Homo sapiens: one gene and its partner. The protein of the gene in region 1 purifies or fractionates together with the protein of each later gene. This does not show direct contact. Each region holds a gene or a part of one and is shown in the gene's direction. Other genes may lie near its edges.

Region 1 (5,712 bases):
AGAGGCAGCTGATGGCACCACTTTGTCCCCGCTGGACCTAGTATTCTGGCCAAAAAGAGTCAAGGACTTCAAATCTGATCAGTGATTGAGACCTGGTAGGTTATACTGGCCATTGTATTTTGGATGAATACAGTAAAGATTTCTGTGCTGTAGAAACACATGGTGTGTAAGGGGCTTGAATTATTCTTTAAAAATTTATTTCAGCATTTAACAAACACTTCTCAAAACACGTCCGAGTCTCTAACCTTGTGCCAGGAGCTAGTCTTAGCTCTCCGGTGCACATTTATTGCCTTTACTGCCTACGCTGCAGCAAGTAGGCCTTGTCCATGAGCTATGGGCAAAATCAAGGTCCTTACTGGCCTTGTATCTGTCCTTGCTCAGTCAAGATGTGGGCAAATGAAGATTTGGCCTGTGCCCTTTTGCAGCTCAGATTTCAATGAGATCAATGAATACATGCGAAATACTAAGATAATAATACTTAGCAATAGATAGCTAATATGAGAATGCTGAGGGAATTCAGAAAAAAGGAAAGATTATGTGATCTGGGATTCATTCACATGGGGAACCCTCAGGAGAAGATGAATCTTGGAAGAAATGTCAGATCTGGGTTGGCAGAAAGGAGGGGATTCCTGGTAGGCCAAGAATAGGAGCAAAGTCACTGTGGTGGCTGCAGGGGAGCATCACACAGGCTGGGCCTTATGGAGGAGGAAGGGGAATGCTGGAGAATAGTGGGTGACTGAGGGAGGGGGTGGCTTGTAGTACTCAAACAAGTATGAGTTGAATAAAGACAAATAGAGATCACGGGTAGCTTGGGAGACCGAAGTTGACTGAAGCTCTTAAATGCCAAATGAGGAGATTGTAAATACTGTGATTGATAAATGAGAATCCTCCTAGGTTTGTAGGGCATGACTTGCTGAAAGTAATTTTTAAAAGACCAGTTGGTTGATTTATTTGACATGGATTGAAGCAGGGAAAAATTAGAGACTTGGAGGACAGTAAGAAAGATACTCTGAGAGTTTAGGTATGAGGCAATGAGAACACTGATTAAGGTGGAGAGGAGAGAAAGGAGGTGAATGGTAAGGCATTCTGTGACAGAAGAATGAGAGAAGCCTCAACAACCCTGGGAGATTAAGCAGATCATTTCAAATCATAATATAACTAATAGAGTAGTGAACATTTATGGAGCAGTGGGTAGATTGATTATTTTGTTACCATTGTTGTTTATTGGGGTTGTGATTGATTATTGATGGAGGGTTGTAAAGGGTGAAAAAAAAACTTTCAAATTGAAGTCTCAGAATGACATCAGTGATGCCAATGACTGAAGCAGAGTAAATTAGGAAATGGACTCATTTTAAGTTTGTTTTTGACATATTAAATTTAATGTAATTATTTGTAAATAATGCTAATATGTAGGTAGACAGTCATATAAAACTAGCACTCAGGCGAGATGTCTGATCTGAAGGTATAGAGAGCTAGCCCAAGAACTGTATTACAGACAATTAGGATCTCAGTATTACAAACAGACAATTAGGATCTCAGGGAAGTTCAAATAATAAACACTGGAAGGGTTACAGAGAGAGCAGGCTTGGGCAGTCCTGGCAAATGGGTAACTAAAACCTCTAAAGCAGATAAATGTATGGGACATGCAGCTCTCGCCCTCACCCACAGTGACATGGCACATAATGGAAATATTTTCATGTTTCTACTCAAAGTTCATGGGCATATTCTCATTTATCAAGATTAGGTGTGTGCCAGGCCCTCATGGGAAAACGAGTGAGTCTCCAAACCTGGGCTCTCTGCACTTGCCTTACCATCACCTACACATCCTCTAGCCTCTGCCTCAGCTTTCCTTTCCTCTTGTACCTCCTGCAACCTCCCCATACCCACACACCTGTACAATTTTAAATGTGAAAAGAGTTGCTGTGTGATCTCCAGTTTCCCTAGGGAGTGCCTCCTCTGGCGTTTTAGATTTTTAATGGGGGCACCATCTGTCTTTTCATGGCAATAATCACTGACTCCAGAAAAAGTGCTGACCCCACGACCCAAATGAACCTCACAAGATTGCCGATATCCGTGATGTCCGATACAAGCTAATGACATCTCTTATGAAGTCAAAATACGTGAAAGAACTTACTTATTAAGTTTTATAGAATCCTAACTTTGAAAGACGGAAGACTCAGAAGTTATCAAGGTCAATTCCTTAATGGTGAAACCAAACCCCAGGTTTTTCAAAGGCCACACAGATGAGTTAAAGCAGAGTGAGATCTAGAGCCCAAATCTCCTGTGTGCCATTCTTATCTGTCTTCACCACAGGTTTCCATCCTGGTTGTTGTTCTGTTCCTCAGAATTCTTTTGAGATGTGAACCAATTTTGAAAAATGAAATGCTAAGCTATTAATTTACAGTAAAAATATCATACCAAATGAACCAAAGTTGTGAGCTCTGTATTCCCATCTGTAGGAAAAAGCACATAAAAAATTTTAAATCAAACCTTGCTTGGTAATAATGGATTCATAGGAGAGAACTGAGAGAAAGATGATCTTAATGGCTAGTTGACACAGGGCTGGTGGATTTAGGGGCAAAGTTTACAGGAAAAAAGCCACTTCATATTCTACCTTCTTATCCATATCATGTGACTGCTCCTCTCCCTGCCCCAACTTATTTGCTAATCCATTCATCCATTTATTTAACAAATATGTATTATGAATCAATTATGCAGCAGGAACTGTTCTAGGCACTGGGCATCCATGAACAAAATGAATCAGTTCTAAGCATCAGTAAACAAAAGAGACCAGGTCTGAATCATTGTGAAATATTTTAGTGAGCGGAGATAGGTTCAATTGAATAAATGAAAAAATATACTATTTCAGATGGCATTAAGTGCTATGGAGAGCAATAAAGTGGGGTAAGTGAAAAAGGCAGTAGCTTGGGTGGGAATGGAAGGCATATTACTCTTGGGTAAAAAGTGGGATTGTTATAGCTACTCTTTACTTTGTTTTCTTGCATATTTTCTCTTTATGATAGGGACTATATTTTTCATCTGCGCTAAGCTAGAGTTGACTTTGGGTTAAATATTCTTTTTAAAAAATGGTTCTTCATTTGGTCTTATGATGTAGAATAAATTATATAGCTGAAAACACTTTATGAATCCTGACCACCTGTTTTGAGTAACTTTAATTGAAGCTCAGACTTTGGACCACCTGAAGGTCTCTCAGGGAAGGGGGCCTAGCAAACCATTCTTTGAAAGATATTGAGCCAGAAATAGGACAGTGAGATCCCAGTCTGGGCAAAGTAGTGAGGTGGGCAAAGCCCATTAAATGGTGTCAAATGTGACTTCATTCTCCCCATAAGACTGAGTCTCCTTTCTTTAGAGGCCTTTCCAAGTCCATTCATCCATCAGCAGACATTCATTTAAAGGTCTCCCAGGTGCCCAACATAGTGGGGAATGTGGAAAATCTACAACGTGACAGTGTTCTCCTCTTTAAAATGAGAGAATTGGCTTGAAAGCCCCCTCGCAGCACCAGTATTTAATGAATGTAGGGTTCCTTTCTCACACGGGAGGTGTTGAAAATGTTAGTTTCCTTTCCAATTCTCAACTTGGCTCAAAGACTTAATAAAGCAGAGGCAAAGAAACCAACCTTGACGAGCTTTGGCAGGTAACTGCAGTGGCCCTCACCACAACCCCCTGAGGAAGGCCGTGTTCTCCAGGTGAGGACACTGAGAGCCCAGGTGTCTGTGATCCACAGGATACTTCACAACTAGTAAGTAGCAGACTGAGGATTCCTAACCAGGTGTGTCTCACTCCAATGTTCCTCCACTTCCCAACCTCTCACTTGCCTCCAAGCAAGACAGGCAGCCTCTGAAGTATGGGAATGGAGTAGCGTAGATGAGAGGCCACACTGTGCAGGATAGCCTCATCATAGGACCAGCCCATGGAACTTGCCTTGTGATATGCATTTGCATGATTTCAGTCTCTTCACTTCAGCCCAGCCCAGCCAACTGTTTCCCAGATCGCATTAGTTTCCTAGGGCTTCTGTAACAAGTCCCACAAACTGCGTGGCTTACTACTATAGAAATCGATTCTCTCACAGTTCTTGAGGCTGGACGTCTGAAATCAAGATATCAGCCAAGTCACGCTGTCTCTAAAAGCTCTAGGGGAGGAATCTTAGAGCTCTTCCTTGTCTCTTCTAGCTTTTGGCAGTTGCCTGCAATTCTTGGTGCTCCTTGGCTTGTAGATGCATCACTCCAATCTCTGCCTCTGTCTTCACATGCATTCTCTCTGTGTGTCCATGGCCAAATTTCCCTCTTTTTTATAAGAACATCAGTCATTGGATTAGGGCTCACTCTCATCTAATATAATCTCATCTTTATTTGATGACATTTGCAAAGACCCTATTTCCAAAGAAGGTCACACTCACAGGTTCTGAGGGTTAAGACTTGGGCATATCTTTTTTGGTGGACATAATTCAACCCAAAACAGTCCCCAAGAGCATTTATTGCAATGTGTTTGCTCACATGGGCCTTCTTGGGTATCAAGCTCATCAGCTTTGTGTGCAAATAGAAATTTGTGTTGAAAGATTTTCTTTACTTCCTTTATAAATCCCACAGTATACTCTTACCATCCGTCTTCTCCTGTCTAAGGTATCTTATCACTGACCCAGTAAACTAGTATTGTCAATCATCTGTTGTCTAGACTAGATGTAGTCCACAGTACCACAATGTTACATCTACCTCAAGTAGCTTTTCCATAGGAGAATACAGGTCTAGGAGTTTGGAGACGTGCATTGAAGTAACGGCTCTGACACTAAGCTGTGTGATCTTGGGTGGGTCACTTCACCTCTGTGGGCCTCATTTTCTCATATTTAAAAGAAGTTTCAGCCAGGCACAGTGGCTCATGCCTGTAACCCCAGCACTTAGGGAGGCTGAGGCACGCATATCACTTGAGGTCAGGAGTTCGAGACCAGCCAGGCCAACATGGTGAAACCTCATCTCTACTAGAAATACACAAATTAGCCGGGCATGTTTGCATGCACCTGTACTCCCAGCTACTTGGGAGGCTGAGGTGGGAGGATTGCTTGAACCTGGGAAGTGGAGATTGTAGTGAGCTGAGATCATGCCACTACACTGCAGCCTGGGCGACAGAGCAAGACTCTGTCTCAAAAAAAAAAAAAAAAAAAAAGAAAGAAAGAAAGAAAGAAAGAAAAAGAAAAAAAGAAGAAGAAGTTTGAACAAAATGCTGCTTAAAATCCTGAGACTCCAGGTCTTCTTTCCTACCTGTTTGAAACCCCTTATTATTAGGATCTCTTTTGGTTAGAAAGAGTTACCTTGAGGAAATAATGTTTATCCACTTTATGTTAGCAGAGAAGAGAAAGAATGTCCTTCAGGGATGCATTCACTTCTATTTTAGCACCCTCTTACTAACACTGAGCTGGCTTCACCAGTAAGGCAGAAAGGAGGGTGTTATACTGGCATGGGTGGAGGCAGTAAGTTTTAGAGAGATGGAGGGTGGTAGAACAGCATCCAAGAGTAGAATTCCAGGGAGGGGTGAAGGGTGGGCTAGTTCGGGGGCAGGCCAGGGTTGGAAGAGGTGAGCGATAGTGGATGGGATTGTGGGAACATGGCATTCCTCATGTGTCTGGCCAGCTAGGTCTGACTGGACTTGGTGTCCAACAGGAGGACTGCAGAAGTGACAGAAATTAAGCCATCTCTATTT
Region 2 (4,606 bases), on another chromosome or scaffold:
TAACACTCACTCATAGCACACATTCAGTGTGTGATTGCTGGAGTGAATGATTGAAATCATCAGCTGTAATCCTTTATCATTGTTAGTACAATCACTATGCCCAGTGGGTACTAAACTCATAATTTCTCATCATTTTGACCCACTCAGAAGCCTGAAGTCAATGTTATCTCCAAACATATGCAAGCACTTTCAACTGTATGTCCTTAAATCAGCACCTAACCCAAAATTCATTTGAGCATGGTGGAAGGAATGATGGGCCCTGGGTGTGGGGACCTGGGCTGGTGGGAGGAAGGTAAGTGTGGCCCCTGCCCCACTGTGGTCCTTGTAGTGGTTGGTTCATAGCACAGGTCTACAAGTGTGTGTATCTACACATGTATGGACCTTATTTTGTGTAATATATATATATGTACATTATATATATTATATATATATTATGTATATATATATGCATATGTATAATATATATAGGGTCTCCCCAAATTATATTTTAATTGAATTTTTATAGATGAAGTCACATATTAAAAACTTTTGTTTTCCAAAGACTATTTTAAGGAGGCCTGTGAGAGATATTTGGTAAAGCAAACAATTAAACTTTGCCCATTTAAATTTAGTAATATCACATTTCTCAGAGTGAGGGACATAGTCACAACATACATGTGCAGAGTTCAGCTGCACAGGTGCTCAGTTGAGAGGAATGTCACTGGTAACTGGAAATCTTTCCGTAAATTATGAAAGTGAATTGGGTCCTTTTATCGGCTTTGCTTCTTCCTAGGTAGTACTGTGGGAGGATTTACCTGAATACAAGTAAGGGGGTAATATCAGATTACCTGCTTTCTATTAAAAATATCCAAACTTGAGTTTTTTTCTCAGTTTCAGGTTAATATCTGTATGGTCACTAGGCTCTGAAAAATTGACCTTATCTGTCATAGTTTAGACAAAGAGCAGAAGCAATAAATTATAAATAATATTAACAACTGGCTGGGTGTGGTGGCTCACGCCTGTAATCCCAGCACTTTGGGAGGCCGAGGCGGGTGGATCACTTGAGATCAGGAGTTCAAGACCAGTCTGGGCAACATGATGAAACCCCGTCTCTACTAGAAATACTAATATTAGCCGGTCACGATGGCAGGCGCCTGTAATCCAAGCTACTCGGAAGGCTGAGGCATGAGAATCGCTTGAACCTGGGAGGCAGAGGTTGCAGTAAGCTGTGATCGTGCCACTGCACTCCAGCCTGGGTGGCAGAGTGAGAATCTGTCTAAAAAAACAAAAAACAAACTAAAAATATTAACAACCAAGATAACCAGTGCAGAGACCCCACTCAGAGGGTTTGTCTGTTCCCTGGCTACAATACCTTAGATTTTTTTCTCCTCTTGTTTGATGAACACATACAGTCAAGAAGCAGTGCCTGAGAGGGAAGGGCCACTGTATTAAACATCAGGATTCAAGATTCTTGTTCCAGATCTGCCTTGCTCAGTAACCTTGATGAGCTCACTTAACCTCATTGCACTTTGGTTTCTTCATCTGAAAAAAATGATGCTATTAGATCTCAAAGGTCTTTTCCAGTCCTTGATTTTGTAATTACCAAAGCCAGACTACATTAAAATGAACAGATGAAGCATTTTAAATACCCTCACTTAGGATAAGTACTCTGTTTAAAAATTCTACTTGATAATGTTTGTTTCCCCAAAGCATAAAGTGCTTTATATCTAAAGTTGAAATAATCCCTACTCTGTCCAGGCTTAGATTGGACCCCAAACATTTAAAAGATCTAAACATTGGCATCTAGGATCCTAGCAAAAATGGACAACACTATCATGAAATGTGATACTTTCAAAGAGTATTTACTATTGACAATCAGTAATAAATGTTGATTTGTTATATTTATAATAATTCATCATCAGCAGCAACATTTATTGCATTGATCAGTTTGATCTGTTTTCGAAGTTATGTGAGATCAGGGCTTCAGGCAAAATTTTAAAAGTCATTTTTGTTATTTAGGAAAGAAGTGCTATCAAAAAGTATTCATTATTTTATTATTTTGAGTTTTTTTGGTGATGAATCTGTATAATATCAAGATACAGATATTAGAAACCAAAGTCAACTTCAAATGAACTCTTTCCGCTGTCAGAAATCTCTTGGATCTGTTTGGAGCTGGTTTTCACTTATACTGAATAGATTTGAGAAATGACTGTAATGCAGGGGTCTTAAGTAGAACAGAGAAAGGAGTCTCTCTGAAGCTCTCTTTGGGGAGTTACATCCACCCTGATGATGATACAAAATACTGATGGATTCCAGAGTTTCTGATGATGTGTTTTTCTAAGCCAAACAATGGTTGAGTAAAATTCCCTATCAATGACACAGACATCTCGAGATGGGGAGAATTCTGAGCTTTCTGATGCTATTAACTCTCTCTTTTTCAATTTAGTTGCACCAACTATCACATTTCTCGAATCTCCAACCTCAGACCACCACTGGTGCATTCCATTCACTGTGAAAGGCAACCCCAAACCAGCGCTTCAGTGGTTCTATAACGGGGCAATATTGAATGAGTCCAAATACATCTGTACTAAAATACATGTTACCAATCACACGGAGTACCACGGCTGCCTCCAGCTGGATAATCCCACTCACATGAACAATGGGGACTACACTCTAATAGCCAAGAATGAGTATGGGAAGGATGAGAAACAGATTTCTGCTCACTTCATGGGCTGGCCTGGAATTGACGATGGTGAGTAACTGACACTTTTGTATGTGGGGAGAAGATAAAGTCTATCATTCACCTGTTGACAAAATCATGTATACAATAAGCCATCCCCCAACCTAGTGGCTTAAAACTCCATTATTTAGTGTTGCTCATGGATCCATAGGTCAGCGGAGTGGTTTTATTTTGCATGTATTTATTGTGGAATTCAGGGTCATGAAGCAGCAGCTACATAGGAGATGTGCCTGTTATGATAAGTGTGGAGTGAAAGAGGACAACTGCAACGATGTGAGGCTTCCTAAGGCCTAGATTCAGGGCTGGTGCACTGGACTGTCTCTTCAGCTTATCTGCCATTGGCCAAAGCAAGTCACAGGGCCAAAGCCAAGTTAAGGGGCAGGGAGTTGTACTCCTCCCAAGAAGGTGATGAGGAAATTAATAATTTTGAACAGTTATCTGATACACACTGGATTAATAACTACTCCAGGATGCTTGGGTATCTTATGAGAAAAGGGTTATTATTATTATTTCCATCACTGTTGCAAGTATTTAATGAGATTTTGTACCCACAATGGCAAAACCCATGCAAAACCGCAAGCGCAGGAACTGTGTATGGTTGGCTCGTGATGCATTTAAGATTTATTTTCTAGCCTCTTACCTAATTCAAAAAGGAGAATTCTGGTTTCTCATCCATGGATGAGAAATTAGTGTCTTGGACTGTTTTGCTTACCCGGGCTGACTGAGCTGAGTGATTCTTTTATTGGCTCCGGAGCTGTTTTCCTAGGAGTGGTAATAGTGCTTCTCTGGCCAAAGGCTAGGACTGCGGAAAGGATGGCTAGCATCAGGGGTCTACTCTGGGCACAGCAGGAGCGTGTCAGTGTGAGCTTCAGGAACAGTGGGACAAGTGTCATGCATTTACCTGCTTCAGATGCTGTCCTTCAGTGGAGTGTTCTTACCTACTCAGTCTCATTGCCCAAATGCTTGCTACCAATGTGGTGGCCAAGGCCTGTGTTTGGATGTTGGGAGCTGTACATGAATAGAGTTCCTCATCAGAGTAGCTCTGAGTCAGTCAAAGTCATGCAAAGATGACTTGGTGGAGAGAAGGGAAAATAGAACCCTGGGGAGACTTGTAAGGCAGGGGCTGCTTGGGCTGCATGTACCTGTGTGGCTCCCAGGGCCCCCCCACCAGCAAAGGTGATCCATGCAAAGCCATCTCTGCAAAACAATAAACAAGAATGCAGTCCTTCTCATTACATGATAAGTTCCTATTATTTTGCTCTTCACTAGACCTCTTTTTAAATGCACAAGCTTGCTTAGTATATTCAAAATGTGATTTGGAATATGTGTTTGATTTATAAACAGTAGCCCTTCAGGAGCACATAAAACAAGCAATATTTGGATGCAAAACCCAGACACCCCTGGCTGTTGCTGTCTTTTCCATTAAATCTTCCTCTTAATTGAGAGTTTAGCTGCTTGGCTATGGTTGCTGCAGTAAATCCCTAGCTTGCAGTGTGCAGGAAGTCATGTTTGAGGGAATAATAGCTTCACAGTTAAATCCAGAGACACTGATTTAGGACAGTAGCTTTTTGCTTGTTCTTACATAAACTTTTTATTTCTGAATAATTTTAGATCTGTAGAAAAGTTGCAAAGATAGTATAGAGCGTTCACAGCCTTATCACCTCCCCCACCATTGTTAATATCTTACATTACTTTGGTACATTTGTCACAAATGAGAAACTAATATTGGTACATTACTAACAACTGAACTTCAGACTTATTTGAATTTCACCAGTGGCCCTTTGAAACTCTTGGGGGCAAAACTTGATTCAGAGTGAAGGTCTGCAGTGAAAAGCTGTCAGAAGTGGTCTGAGTCTTTTGATATCAATGCACAGTACTGTTGGTGTA

Evidence for each region.
Region 2: the proteins of SHC4 (region 1) and NTRK2 purify together in Homo sapiens (affinity purification with western blotting, with the first as the bait; one study listed by BioGRID). This does not show direct contact.

The regions. Positions count from the first base shown.
Region 1 is NC_000015.10:48,956,441-48,962,152, reverse strand, and holds part of SHC4 (SHC-transforming protein 4), read left to right. Parts: intron 1-5,712. UniProt on the Homo sapiens protein: Activates both Ras-dependent and Ras-independent migratory pathways in melanomas. Contributes to the early phases of agrin-induced tyrosine phosphorylation of CHRNB1.
Region 2 is NC_000009.12:84,725,229-84,729,834, forward strand, and holds part of NTRK2 (BDNF/NT-3 growth factors receptor isoform a precursor), read left to right. Parts: intron 1-2,425; coding exon 2,426-2,731; intron 2,732-4,606. UniProt on the Homo sapiens protein: Receptor tyrosine kinase involved in the development and the maturation of the central and the peripheral nervous systems through regulation of neuron survival, proliferation, migration, differentiation, and synapse formation and plasticity.